Regions from separate parts of the Homo sapiens genome. Here regions 1 and 2 are each reported to be linked to region 3. The links are microRNA targets in miRTarBase. Many come from high-throughput screens and were not tested one by one. Region 3 holds a microRNA gene; each other region holds the end of a gene's coding sequence.
What was found. Region 3 holds the annotated microRNA hsa-miR-885-5p (UCCAUUACACUACCCUGCCUCU, at 1,453-1,474, opposite strand). A microRNA usually pairs through its seed, bases 2 to 8, with sites in the 3' UTR of a target mRNA and lowers its output. Matches are read on the target gene's strand: a 7mer-m8 pairs with bases 2 to 8, a 7mer-A1 pairs with bases 2 to 7 and ends in A, and an 8mer does both.

Region 1 (4,201 bases), not on the chromosome of region 3:
TGGCCAAATTAGTTTTTTCATAGCAATTGATGGAAACTATGATCATACTTCTTGATTACCTTTGCATAGTCCAAAAGAAACATTTGACTACGCCTTTTTTTTTCCTAATTTTCTTGGAGGTTCTGTGGCTATAACATCAGAGAACATTATATTGACGTTAGAATTTACTTAAAATGAAAATTATTTGGCAACCCCTGTAAATATTTTTGTTGTTGTTGAAAATGAATAAATGTGATTGTATTTGTTCTGATTGGAAATATTTTAAAAATCAGGAACAAATTAAAATTAGGAAATCTATACTTCCTCCCTAAAGAAAATCATATGGTAAACATTATGGTGAAATCAAACATATGGTAAAACCAATTTTTTCTTTCCTAGATATGCAAACATGTGTTGGTAAAAGACATAAAAATAATTGTGTTGGATCTGAGGTGATATGTTCTGAATGTAAGCACCGTCAACATCAGACACCTACTCATGGACATGTGGTTGCCGGATTTTCTTAAGATGTTTCCAGAAATGACTGATATTTTATATTTATACATTTTAGATGACAAAGCTTGATATTTATTGCTGTTGCACATTTTAAAGTTTTCTTTTTGGGTTGCTCTGTGTCAAGAGAGGTTACATGGTGTTAAATCGGTACCTGATAATGTACCCAAATACTATGGCCAGATAATAAATTGTGCTGCAAACAACATGTCTTGTATTTATAGAGGTCTCTGCATACATTTTTAGAGCTTTAGATGATTTGCTATATTTTTTATTCATGTAAAATGTAATTCCAAATAAGAAATTCTGAGTGTATATAGTCTCCAAAGCAGACCATCTGTTTCTGAAACCTTCCCCTGAGGTAGGTGAACAGCTTCCATGTGTAGATGAAATATGGCTGCCATTGATAAAGCTTGTTCTGTGTTTTCAGTGTCATGAAATCCCAGGCTCAGAGAGATATCTCTGCAGTGAATCATTGTGTAAGATACAAGAACAACACTTCTATTCAGGGATCAGGTGTCAGAGGGCCTGGGATAGCAGACAATTCATTAATTTGATTTAGAAGACTAAAAGTAGAGAAGCTTGAGAGAGGATTTTTTTTTTAAAAAAAGACTCAGATAAAAGTACAAAACCTGTTACTGTGAAAATGAACAGGGGTGATAGGAAGAAGAAATGAGACATAAGAAATAACTGATAATTCTTAGTCAACTTGCTAACTCTGTTAGCAAGTTGAATTGGTAGGAAAAACCTGAGGATGGAAACAGTGTGGAGAAATCTTAGCTGCAGATACACAGAGGGCAGAATGGAAGTGATATTGTTGAGTTATTTGAGAATAGGTCCTTTGGGACACTGAAGACTAGTTCTGCAGGTGAAATCTTTATCTTGGAAGACATTGCTCCCAGGCACATTGGGAAATCCTGGGCTGACAGCCCTTTCCTTGATCGAGAAACTTGTGATCACTTCTTAGTCTCCCTTTTCATCCTTTAGGGCCTTACATTACTCTAGTCTAGCTTTCTTCTTTTTTCTTTTCAACGTTTAAGTTTCCTTCTCCAGCCATCTCTCCCTGGATCTCCACAACTTTTCAACAGGGCCAAACTAATCCTATGAAACCTTCTGTCTTCCCAATGTCTTCTGTGCCAGCCACAGCTCTCCCTGCCTTTGCTTTCCTCATGACATTGTATCTGAGTTGCCTAAACAACTCATGTTTCCATGTACTAGCTTCCACTGCTTAGTTCAATGATTTCCATATTCCAGAGTGGTATTTCCTGTACTCTGTGCTTGGATGGGTTAACATCTGATATGGTTTGGCTGTGTCCCCACCCAAATCTCATCTTAAATCATAGTAGGAGGGACCTGGTGGGAGGTAATTGAATCATTGGGGTGGTTACCTCCATGCTGTTCTCATGATAGTGAGTGAGTTCTCAGGATATCTGATGGTTTCATAGGGGGCTTTTTCCCTTTTGCTCAGCACTTCTTCCTGCCATTATGTGAAGAAGGACGTGTTTTGCTTCCCTTTCCGCAATGATTTTAAGTTTCTTGAGGCCTCCCCAGCAATGCAGAACTGTGAGTCAATTAAACCTCTTTCCTTTAGAAATTGCTCAGCCTTGGTCAGTTCTTTATAGTAGCATGAGAATGGACTAATGCATCAACCCTCCCTGCTTGTCTAGTTCTCAATTCTGGTATCATGTCACCTGAATTCTGTTCCTGTTCTCATTTATACAGAACCACCTACTATGGGCAAGTCAGTGGCTTGTTTCTGTTTCATGGAATCTTCTAGCTATGGAGAGCTCAGGTATCAGACTTCAGAAGTAGAGCTTGGCTTGCCTTGTGCATGGAGACTTTAGTCTATGGCCACCACTAGTTAAGAGCAGATTAACTCTGCAAGGCTGGCTCCATAGACACCTCACTTTTTCCTGAGTGGTGCTGTCCTCAGTGTCTTAACACTTAAACACACCATGATATTCTGATATGCTTGATCAAAGGAAAATGTTATATTCTTTATTCAAGTAAAAATAATTGTTGGGACAATGGATAGTTGAGAAATGAGTGAGATCCTTTGTATAGAATTAAAAATTATAGTAATACACTAAGAGGATGTAAAATGAGAGTTGTCCGATGAAAAAGCTATGGACATTGAATGGTGCCTAAAGATAGAAAGGACTCAGTTGAGGGCCAAGAACATTTAGCATCTTAGATTTCCAGAAAGACTAGAAAGAGAAGCTATGAGTATGCAAAACCATTATGTCCCTTCTGAATAGCAAACTAGAAGAGAACTCATTTTCACTAAGAAAGTATATTGTATTTCCTAAATAAAGGAGACATTCTTGGCACTTTTTTGTAGGTTTTTTTTTTTTTTTTTTTTTTTTTTTTTTTGCCAAGTACAAACCAAATTAACCAGGATCTCACAGAGTGGGACTGTTGGAGGCGGCAAACCAGAGCCTGACTTTGGCTGGCAGAATGAGGCCCTGGGGCTGTGTCTGAAAGAACCAACAGAAATGTGACCACATCACTAAGTAATGGACTGGTCGTGAGGCAGAGACCCTGTTAACCAACCTGGAGACGCCACTACACACACATGTGCATGAGCACCAGTGTTCATTGGATAAACTATCTATGGAAGGTCTCTTTCACAACAGGCAGACAGCACCTTCTCTTTTTTTGAGACAAGGTCTCACACTGTTGCCCAGGCTGGAGTGTAATGGCATAATCATGGGTCACCGCAGCCTTGATCTCGTAGGCTCAAGCGATCCTCCCATCTCAGCCTCCCGAGTAGCTGGGACTACAGGCACTCACCACCACACCTGGCTATTTTTTTTCTATTTTGTAGAAATGAGGTCTTGCTGTGTTGCTAGGGCAGGAGATCCTTCTTTTGAATATGAATCAGTTCCAAAGCTCCATTTGCCACATCCTAAGGCAAAGATGGTTCTTCATTTCTTTTCAGATTTGTGTTTCTGTAGAAAAAAAAGAAACAATTAAGAACTTCCTTTGATTTTCAGTGCTAGTCAGTTTGCACACAGTGCCTGACACCTCATGTGTATTTGTTATAGGCTGAATTGTGTCCCCCAAATTCATGTGTTGAGGTCCTTAACCCCCCAATACCTCAGAATATGACTGAGTTTGGAGATAGGGCCTTTACACAAATAATTAAGTTAAAATGAGGCTAGTAGAGTGGGCACTAATCCAGTATGAGTTGTGTCCTTATAATTAGAGATTAGGACAGACATACACAGAAGGAAGACCATGGGAAAACAGAAAGAAGACTGCCATCTGCAAGCCAAAGAGAGAGAGATCTCAGAAGAAACCATCCCTGCCAAAACCTAGATCTCAGACTTCCAGCCTCCGGAACTGTGAGAAAATAATTTTCTGTTGTTTAAGCCATCTGGTCTGTGGTATTCTGTTTGGCAGCCCTCACAAACTAATGTAGTATCCGGTAAATATTTGCTGAAGTTGTTTGTTTCCTTTTCTCTTACAGACTGAATTGGAAATGGCTTTCTTTGTTGTCATGCAGGGCAGAAATCATTCTTTCCATAGGCCTTGTCAGTTGTAGAAGAGCAAAGCAGAATGTTTGTGGATTATTCTCAGCTACTCAAATTGTTCCTAGTTTCTTTTTAGTAGGATTTTGCTTGTGGAAATTTGACATTTTATTTGGCGCCACACTGGTTCACTTCTGTTTTCTCCCAATTCATTTCACATTGCAACCACATCAACT
Region 2 (4,244 bases), not on the chromosome of region 3:
ATTTTTAGTAGAGACGGGGTTTCACCATATTGGCTAGCCTAGTCTCGAACTCCTGACCTCAGGTGATCTGCCCACCTCAGCCTCCCAAAGTTCTGGAATTACAGGTGTGAGCCCCCACGCCCAGCTGGTCAGGTGTCTTTAGAAGTCAGGAGTTCCCAACATTGTCAAGTCACTCCACTGTGTCTTTATTAACACAATTCCTTCTGCCTCAAAGGTTGGTCCCATTTTTACCAGGATACCCATCATTCAAGATCACCACCTTTCACTGAAATCCCAAAGTTAAACTCAGTACCTCTCTTCCAGGTTCCCACATAATCCTATATTCAAATTATGTTTGTATCTCCTTCCCCAGCAGACTTCGTAAGTTTACTACTCTTCTTTGTCCCATCATCCCCATCTCTTACAAGCCTACACACTAGCAAAGTAGCTAGCACATAGCAGGTACATATAATGGATGCTCCCTGAAGAGAACAGAACCAGAACTGCTATGTACAAATGGAGGTAACTTTACAATAAAGATATTCATTTCATGAGAATGATTTGATGGCTAGAAGAGTTAACATTTATTTTTAATTATAGCAAGTCACAGAGTTGTTAAATATGACTGTAAGCTGGGGATTATTCACCAGTTACACGAGCTGGTATGCATGCATTATGTCTGGAGGTAATGAACTGTAAATCATTGAATTACAGTACAGATACATCAGCTAGTGGGGCATAAGGAGGGAAAACAGCAGAGTCAAGGCTTCCACAGCTCACTAAACCAGGTTTAGCATCAGCAATATTTATTCTCTTAACACCAGCTAGACTTCACCATCAGTAATCCCAAATGACCATGCTCATCCAGTACAAAAGGAATTCAATCACAGCTGTGGCAATCTGTTAAACACTAATCAAAATCACAGGTAGCCATTCTATGTTCCTTCCATCATTTAATTAAAAATTTCTTACAAACATTAATGTCTATGAGATTTATTTGCAAAGATCCTAGTTCAAATCAATCCAAAATTTAGAATTGTAGTACAGATTGCACATTTTAAACACCACTTTAACAACATATGCAAATACAGTCAACCCTCCGTAACCATGTAGGATTTGTGAATTCAACCAGGATGAAAAATATTTGGGAGGGGGTAGGGAGGAGGCAGAATGGTTGCATCTGTACCGAACAGGTATAGACTTTTTGTCTTGTCATTATTATTCCCTAAACAATACAGTATAACAACTATTTACATAGCATTTACATTGTATTACGTATCAGGTAATTTAGAGATGATTTAAAGTATCAAGAGAATGTGTGTAGGATATATGCAAACACTACACCATTTTATATAAGGGACTTGAGTATCTGTGGATTTTGGTATCTGAAGAGGACGGGGTTGACCTGGAATCAATCCCTCAATATACTGAGGGACAACTATATACAGAAATGGACAGATCAACACAAACAGAAAATAATTTAGTACTCACCACACAAATAATTGAGATTAATAACTTAAAAGTCCAGAAAATTCTCTCATATATTAACAGTTCACTTATCTGATATTTGGCCAGTTATGTGTGCATAATTTCAGGCCTCAGTCTACTGATATAGAATTGGGTCTAAGTTTAGTGACTTCTTGATCTGTTTTTCGTGGTAAAACAAAGAAAAGCAGTAGTAAGTGTGGGGCCACTGAAAACTGAGAAAACAGTGACAGTGAAGGAACCCACACCATGGTAAATTCTGGGGTTTTATTAGGAAATGTCATAATACTGTAGAGGCAGAGGGTACATACTTACCCATCCCTGAAAGTTGCACAGTATTACTGAATAGTACTATGACTAATGCTTATAATGATTACCCAGTCATCACTAGAATATTAACTCTACTCAGTACATTCTGATTAAGAGATGCACAGTGTAAATTTTAGGAAAAATTCCCCCCCAAAATATGAAAAGCTCAAATGCATAAAAAGTGTTACACATCAGGAATCTAAAAAATTCACTATGTGTAAACTTTCATTCCTCATAATGCCAGAGACATAAGATATTGATGTCGTTAGCTGGCTAATAAGTAGATTTAGTTCAGTTCTAGATGATAACTACAGCCTCGGTCTCATCTCAAAGCAAAGATTTTCACAGAAAAAAAAGGCACCTCAACAATGTCCATATATAAATTTTATTGCATTTGACATCATACAAAAATTTGAACTTAAGGAAGAAAATGAAAATGTGCACCTTTTACAAGTCAAAGAAAAGCAAAAGTTTTAGCATTTGGTCTGCAAAAAAAAAATACGTTAGAGGTACAAAACTGTACTACAGCAGGTCTAAAAAATGTTGGACATAGTTCTTTTGAAAAAGTTAAAACTGTTTTCAAGGTTACTTTTTATATTTAAATTTACAGGCACTGACCAATTTACAAATATTTACATAAATCAAAAAGACCCTTAATAAACACTGTAGCTTTTTTTTTAGCAGCCACCACTTCTTTCATGTGAAAAAAGAAATACTAAAAAAGAGATTTTTTACAAACATTAAGCTTTTATTTATAATAATTTTATTGTGTCTTATCTAAAACATTTTGTGGTGACTTACTGCCTAAAAATTCCAGTTTAGATTACAATCCTATAATTGTACACAGAAAAATATCTGATACTACAAACAGGATATAATCTTAACTTTGATCTCAGTTTCTGTTGCTTCATGTCACAGAGAAAACAGAGCAGGAAAATGGCAAGTAAAACAGAAGTGCACATTGCACTAAGCTATCGTAAAGCACAGGAAACAATCTTTTCAAAATGTCTACACTGAACTGATTCTTTAAAACGATTCACTAACTGTTGTAAGAGTTAGTGCTCCCATTACTACAGTGCAAAATGTATTGTTGTTTCAATACAAAATTTAAAGCAATCTCAAGAGTACATCAAAAGCATGTGAAGTACTAATGAAATGCTAATACAGACACACCCAAAGCCTCAGTCTATCCCAGTGAGTCAAGCAAAGACTTAAGGCAATTGTTCAGTATTTCATGACTGCAGTGATTTGACTGAAATGAAAGATTTCGTTTTGCTTCAAGTAACTGAACAACTGACTTGAATCTTCACTTTACTAGAACAGACTTTGACAACAAACTATCTAACGTAGGTTATACTTTAAGCATGTATGAATTAGACCCTTTCCAAAATTCTACACATCTCTTCAGGATTAGCATGTGGTACAATTAATTGAAGTTATATCAAAAACTTTTTATTTGTTCAGTTAATTTCCCAAAATATATTTTATCTGATCACCTGAAAACACATGCAATATTACTCATCATCAATGTAAACATTTTTAAAAATACATTTTTAAATCAAAGGGGTTTATTAGGAAATGTCATAATAAAATATGCAATCTTTATATGTCTTTTTAAAAATAAAACATGAAAACAAGAACTATGAAAAAAGCAACTATGATGGAGGTAAACATAATGTATTATGATGAAACTATTGTTCTTTATTTCTTGGAAGAATTTATTAAGAAATAGAGGCCAGTTATCTTTTCAGGACAGCAGCTCTTACAGGTAGTATACTGTTCAAATCTCTCTTGTTTTTCAATCTGTGCCATGACTGGGAGAGAAAGAAAAATCATTCTTAAAACCTAAAATTTATGCAGAACAAAAGACTGAGAGTTTAAAAGAATGTTAATAGTTGGTTCTCTCTAGGTGATAAATTTTGAATAATTTTTTCCTTCAAATTTTTTCTTTTTTTGAGATAAGGTCTCACTCTGCCACCCAAGCTGGAGTGCAGTGGTGCAATCTCGGCTCACTACAACCTCCGCTTTCCAGGCTCAAGAGATCCTCCCACCTCTGCCTCCTGAGTAGCTGGGACTACAGGCGTATGCCATCACGCTCAGCTATTTTTAAATTTTTTTGTAGAGACAAGGTCTCATTGTATTGCCCAGGCTGGCTAAGTTTTTATTTTCCAAGTTTTTAACACAGTGTAAGTATTGTTTCTGTCATCAGAAAAGAAAATGTTATTTAAAAACTCCATATTTTTATGGTTCCAATTCATTAATAAAGAAATGGGCACATAGGTGGTACTGAAAGATACAACTGACAATATTAATATTTATTCACGGATTAATTCAATCTAAAAGTAGCAAGGTAATTAAGACAAAACCTTTGGATTTGAGAAGAGAGGATTATTTCAATTATTTGATTGACTGTCTTACATCTTTACTAGCTTTTTGCATTAAAAACAATAATTATGAGACTGGGTATAGTG
Region 3 (4,244 bases):
GGTCCCCCTGTGGTCCCTGCCCTCCAGGAGCTCACAGTCTAGCTGGGGTCAAGGAGAGCAGATAGGCACACAGATCCAGAGCAATGCAAGACAAAACCAAGCCAAGGACATGGCGGGCCGGAAGGGACACAGCCAGGCAAAGGTGGGAGGTGGTCCAGTGTGATGGTAGCGGGCGGGCCGGGCCAAAGCTCAGCGCCCACGAAGGGAGAAGGTGCCTGAGTGGAGGGTGACAGAGTGGAGTCTTTGCTTGGTGTTCAATAGGAAGCCGCTGAGAGTATTTTTGGGTGGAGGGGGAGGAAGGAAGAGAATATCTTTTGAGCATTCATGATGTGCCAAGTTCCATCTGAGCCACTTTTCGCTCAGCTGTCACAGTCTGTGAGGTGGTCAGCCTCACCCCATTTCACAGATAGGGCATCAGCTCAGGGGGTCACCTCTGCATTCAGCCCAGGAAGGCAGAGCTGGGATGGGAGCTGGTCTGTGGCTCCAATCTTGTGCTTTTTCCACCTTGTGGACAAAGTTGGTGGGAGAGCTGTCTGGGGCAGCCCCAAGGAGAGAAAGGGGGGCCAGAGCGTGGTGGGGAGCTGCCAGCTATCCCATGAGTGGGAGGAAATGGGAGCCCAGGCTCAGGGAACACTGTGGTTTCCGTGGATGGTACTGTCTGTCCTGTCCTGCCCAAGCTTCTGTCCTGTCCTGGTCCTGTGGAGGGGATGTTCCTTGGTCTCTGACCTGGCAGCAGAGAGTGGCCAGGACCTTCCCAGCTGCAGGCTCAAAGCCCATCCTGGCCTTGGGCCTGTCCTGAACAGCAGGAGGTGGCTTTCCCTTGCCCTGAGCTGGTCTAGATGGTGGCAGTCTCGGAGTCAAAGCCTTCTGCTGTGGCTTGTGGGGTATGCTGAGCCATAGGTAGCAGAACTGGGAAGCCTCCTTTTACAAAATGGGGTTTCTGAGCCCAGATAAGGCGAATGACTGAAGTTGCAGAGGGTGTAGGACAGTAGGGGCTGGACCTAGGGTTCCTTGATCTCTTGCGTGTGACCTTTTAGGCCTCTCCCTGGATAGGGAGAGGGGAGAGTTCATCTCTTCTAAAAGGGTTCCTTCAGTGGGGAGAGGCTGTGAAGAAGGGATGGAGGCTATTTCTGGGGGCTATTATCTGCCTCCAGGCACAAGCACTAAACAAAGCCAAAACGATTCCCAGCCCAGACACAGTCCTTCCATTATTATTGTTATTAATGCAGTTAATAACACACGCTCACAGAGCACGAGGCAGTAGGCAAAGTGTCCCCCTCACAACAGCCCCCTGAGGTAGGTTTTGGCGCAAGTTCAATCCCCAGCCCCTCCACCCACCACTTTCTGGCTCAGAGAGCTTGAGTGATGGCCCAGGGTCACACAGCTGTGAGTGGTGGAGCCGGGACTTGAACCCGTGCTCTATCCACTACACCCCGCTGCCTCTCATGGAGAAGAGGCAGGGTAGTGTAATGGAGAGAGTGCGGGCCGAGTAGCAGACTGGGCCTTCTGCAGTCACGGTGTCGTCCTAGGCTCCCTGGAGACGGTGGCAGTGGTGGCAGGTCCGGCTCTCCCATGCCTGGCCTTCTGCTTGGTGGGGTGGGCAGCAGGTCCTGGGATGTGGGCAGAGTCCCAAGAGGGTTTACCGATGTCCTGCATGACCTCATGCTGTTAGTGCTCTGGCTGGCAGGGGGAAGGGAGGAGGGTGTGTCGGGGTCTCGCGGGGGTTGAGCCATCGGGCCTGCTGGAGCCAGGCCTTGCTGTTTTTTGAAGACAGCCCCGCCATCCTGGCCCCCTGGCTCCAGCCCCTTCCACTGCCACATTGATGGCATCTAGTCTAGTCCTGCATTTCCCAGTGGAAGTTACTACAAGGAGGCAGGCTCCTGCATGGGGGCTACAGGAAGAGCCCAGAGCTGGGGTCTGGCTTCCGCCCTGCCCCTGCCCTCTGTGGGGCCTTACACTTCTGCTCTGGGTCTCAGTTTCCCCAGCTGCAAATTGGGATAGGACCAGGGTCCTCTAGGGATCATTGAATCCCCTGAAATGTTGCAAGATGAGGAGTCTGGGCATCTGTTCCTTATAAGAGGGGTCACTGCTTTAGTGGAACTCTCACGGAAGTTCATGACCTAGGAGGGTTTAAAAAACACTGGCTTTCCATGAAGACAATGAAAAGATGAGGCGCTGCTCCATGCAGGAGACCAAAGAGGCAGGACATCCAAGTGGCATGCAGGACCCCACATGGATCCTGGCCTGGAGAACGCTGCAGGCACAATTGGCAGAATGTGAATATGGATGGCACAGCAGGTAACAGTACCGAATCAATGTCAAGTTTCCTGAATTGATGGCTGTGTTGTGGTTATGCATGAGAATACCCTTGCTCTTGGGAGACACACCTGCAGTGTCTAGCGGGAGAAGGCCATCACATCTGCATGATGAGGAGGAGAGTGAGATTTGTCAGAGAGCAAAGACGGCAAAAGGTTAGCAACAGCCGAATCAGAGTGAAGGGCATGCCCGTATTCTTTGTGCCATCCTTGCAACTTTTCTGAAAGTTTGAAATTATCTTAAAATACAAAGCTAAAAAATAGGCCTAGGTCAGAGTTTGCACTCTAGGTCCCACCCATATGTGGCTTGACCCATAGGGACCTTAAAATGTGGGAATTTCTTGCCAATACTTAAACATTGAGAGCTGGTACAGGGAAATCTGGATTTCTGGCTCCTCTTGCAAAGTGAGCACTGAGGTCAGATTGGGCTGGCGCTTCTGCAGGCAGCAACAGGAAGCAGCTGTGGTTTGGGTTTGGCACCTGTGCTCTCCCTACCTGGCCCTGCAGACATATGAGTTTGCAATTTCTGAATATTTTTACTCTGTCCCGTTTGAAGATACACCAGACATGGGCTCGTGTCTGCCTGTCCGTCCCTGGAGGGTAGGAAGGTAGGGGAAACCTGCCTGGTTTTGATGATTTCCTTGGTGCCCTGAGTGTTGAGGTCATTTGAGTCTTTCTGAAGGCTGGTCTGCCCTCACTTGTCAGATGGGGAAACTGAGGTTCTGAGGGGCAGAGGCCACAGTGGGAGCTGTTGGAGGGCTGGAACCTGGGCATTCTGCCTCCAGATGCCACATTCCTTCCACACCATACAGCACCTCACAACCGCAGGGTTTGTTTGCAAAGGACAGTCACACGTGTGCATGCCTGTGGTCCCCACAACAGCCCTGTGGGGCAGGCAGTGGAGGCCTCACCAGCTTCCCCATTGCACTGACACAGACACAGAGGCTCAGAGAGGTGAAGGGACCTGTCCAGGGTCACAGGCCAAGCATGGTTGGACCAACTGACCAGAGCGGAGTGTTTCCTGCCCTCTTCTAAGCTGAAACAGTGCATGAGATGACACTAGGGCTTTCTCAACCACCATAACGACACCACAAATGCCCCCAGCCTGGTCTCTCTGTGTTGTTCCTCAAGGATCATCAGACTGGAAGGCCCAGCAAGGCCTCCCCGCTGATGTAAAGGGCCCATGGTGTCTGGTTGTGCATAAAAATGAGCATCCAAATGGCTGTTATGCAGGGAGTTCAGAACACTGGGGAAGAAACTAATCAAGGAACACCCCCTGGGGGAGGCAGGCTGCTGCAGGCTGAAGGTAGGGAGGAGTTGGATGATGAAGAGGAAGGGGGTAGCCCAGAGAGGTGGGAAAGGGGAGACATTTGAGATGAAGGATGAGAGGGCGAAATGGACATTTCTGGAGGTTCCAGATTTCAACACAACCTCATGAGCTGGGGCTATAATCAGAAAGGGGGGGAAGCTTGTTGGGGGTCCCTGGCTAAGGAGTAGAGTTGGGATTGGAACCCAGTCTGTTTCACCCCCAAGTCCAGGCCTCACCCAAGGAATGGGGAAGGGAACCAACTTATGTTGAGCCTCCCTGTGCAGCACTGTGCTAGGGGATCCACTTACATCATATCATGAATGACACTCCTATTGTCCTCCCAGGGAAATGGGCTCAGAGAAGTGAAGCCATGTGCCTGAGGCCACACAGCAAGTTCGCTTGAGAGCTCAGGTCCTGTTCAGCTCAGCCTGACACTCTGCTCAGCTTCTCCCCACTGCCTCTGGAGGACAGAGCCTAAGGTCTGCAGGGCCCAGGGGTGAGCTGGGCACAACCTCCTGAGAGCTTCCAGTTCAGAGCTCCCGGCTGCTCAGACCTGCGTGGGCAAGAGGATTGTTGCAGAAATGACACTACATAGTAGTGTCGTCTATCTGCATGTGGCC

Region 1: miRTarBase lists STAMBPL1 as a target of hsa-miR-885-5p. The part of its 3' UTR that is shown has no 7-base or 8-base seed match.
Region 2: the mRNA of TENT2 is a reported target of hsa-miR-885-5p. Seed matches in the 3' UTR shown: 7mer-m8 at 2,838-2,844.

Annotation. Positions count from the first base shown.
Region 1 is chr10:88,922,790-88,926,990 of GRCh38, forward strand. STAMBPL1 (STAM binding protein like 1) reads left to right here. Exons shown (of 11, transcript NM_020799.4): 11 at 379-698. The coding sequence ends at 435. Among named protein-coding and RNA genes, the nearest start is that of ACTA2-AS1, 7.8 kb to the right of the region's middle.
Region 2 is chr5:79,684,542-79,688,785 of GRCh38, reverse strand. TENT2 (terminal nucleotidyltransferase 2) reads right to left here. Exons shown (of 15, transcript NM_001114394.3): 15 at 540-3,587. The coding sequence ends at 3,513. Among named protein-coding and RNA genes, the nearest start is that of CMYA5, 3.2 kb to the left of the region's middle.
Region 3 is chr3:10,393,079-10,397,322 of GRCh38, forward strand. It overlaps MIR885 (microRNA 885), which reads right to left and starts at 1,484; the gene lies at 1,411-1,484. All of the region lies in intron 5 of ATP2B2 (ATPase plasma membrane Ca2+ transporting 2), which reads right to left. RefSeq lists an enhancer at 2,019-2,615.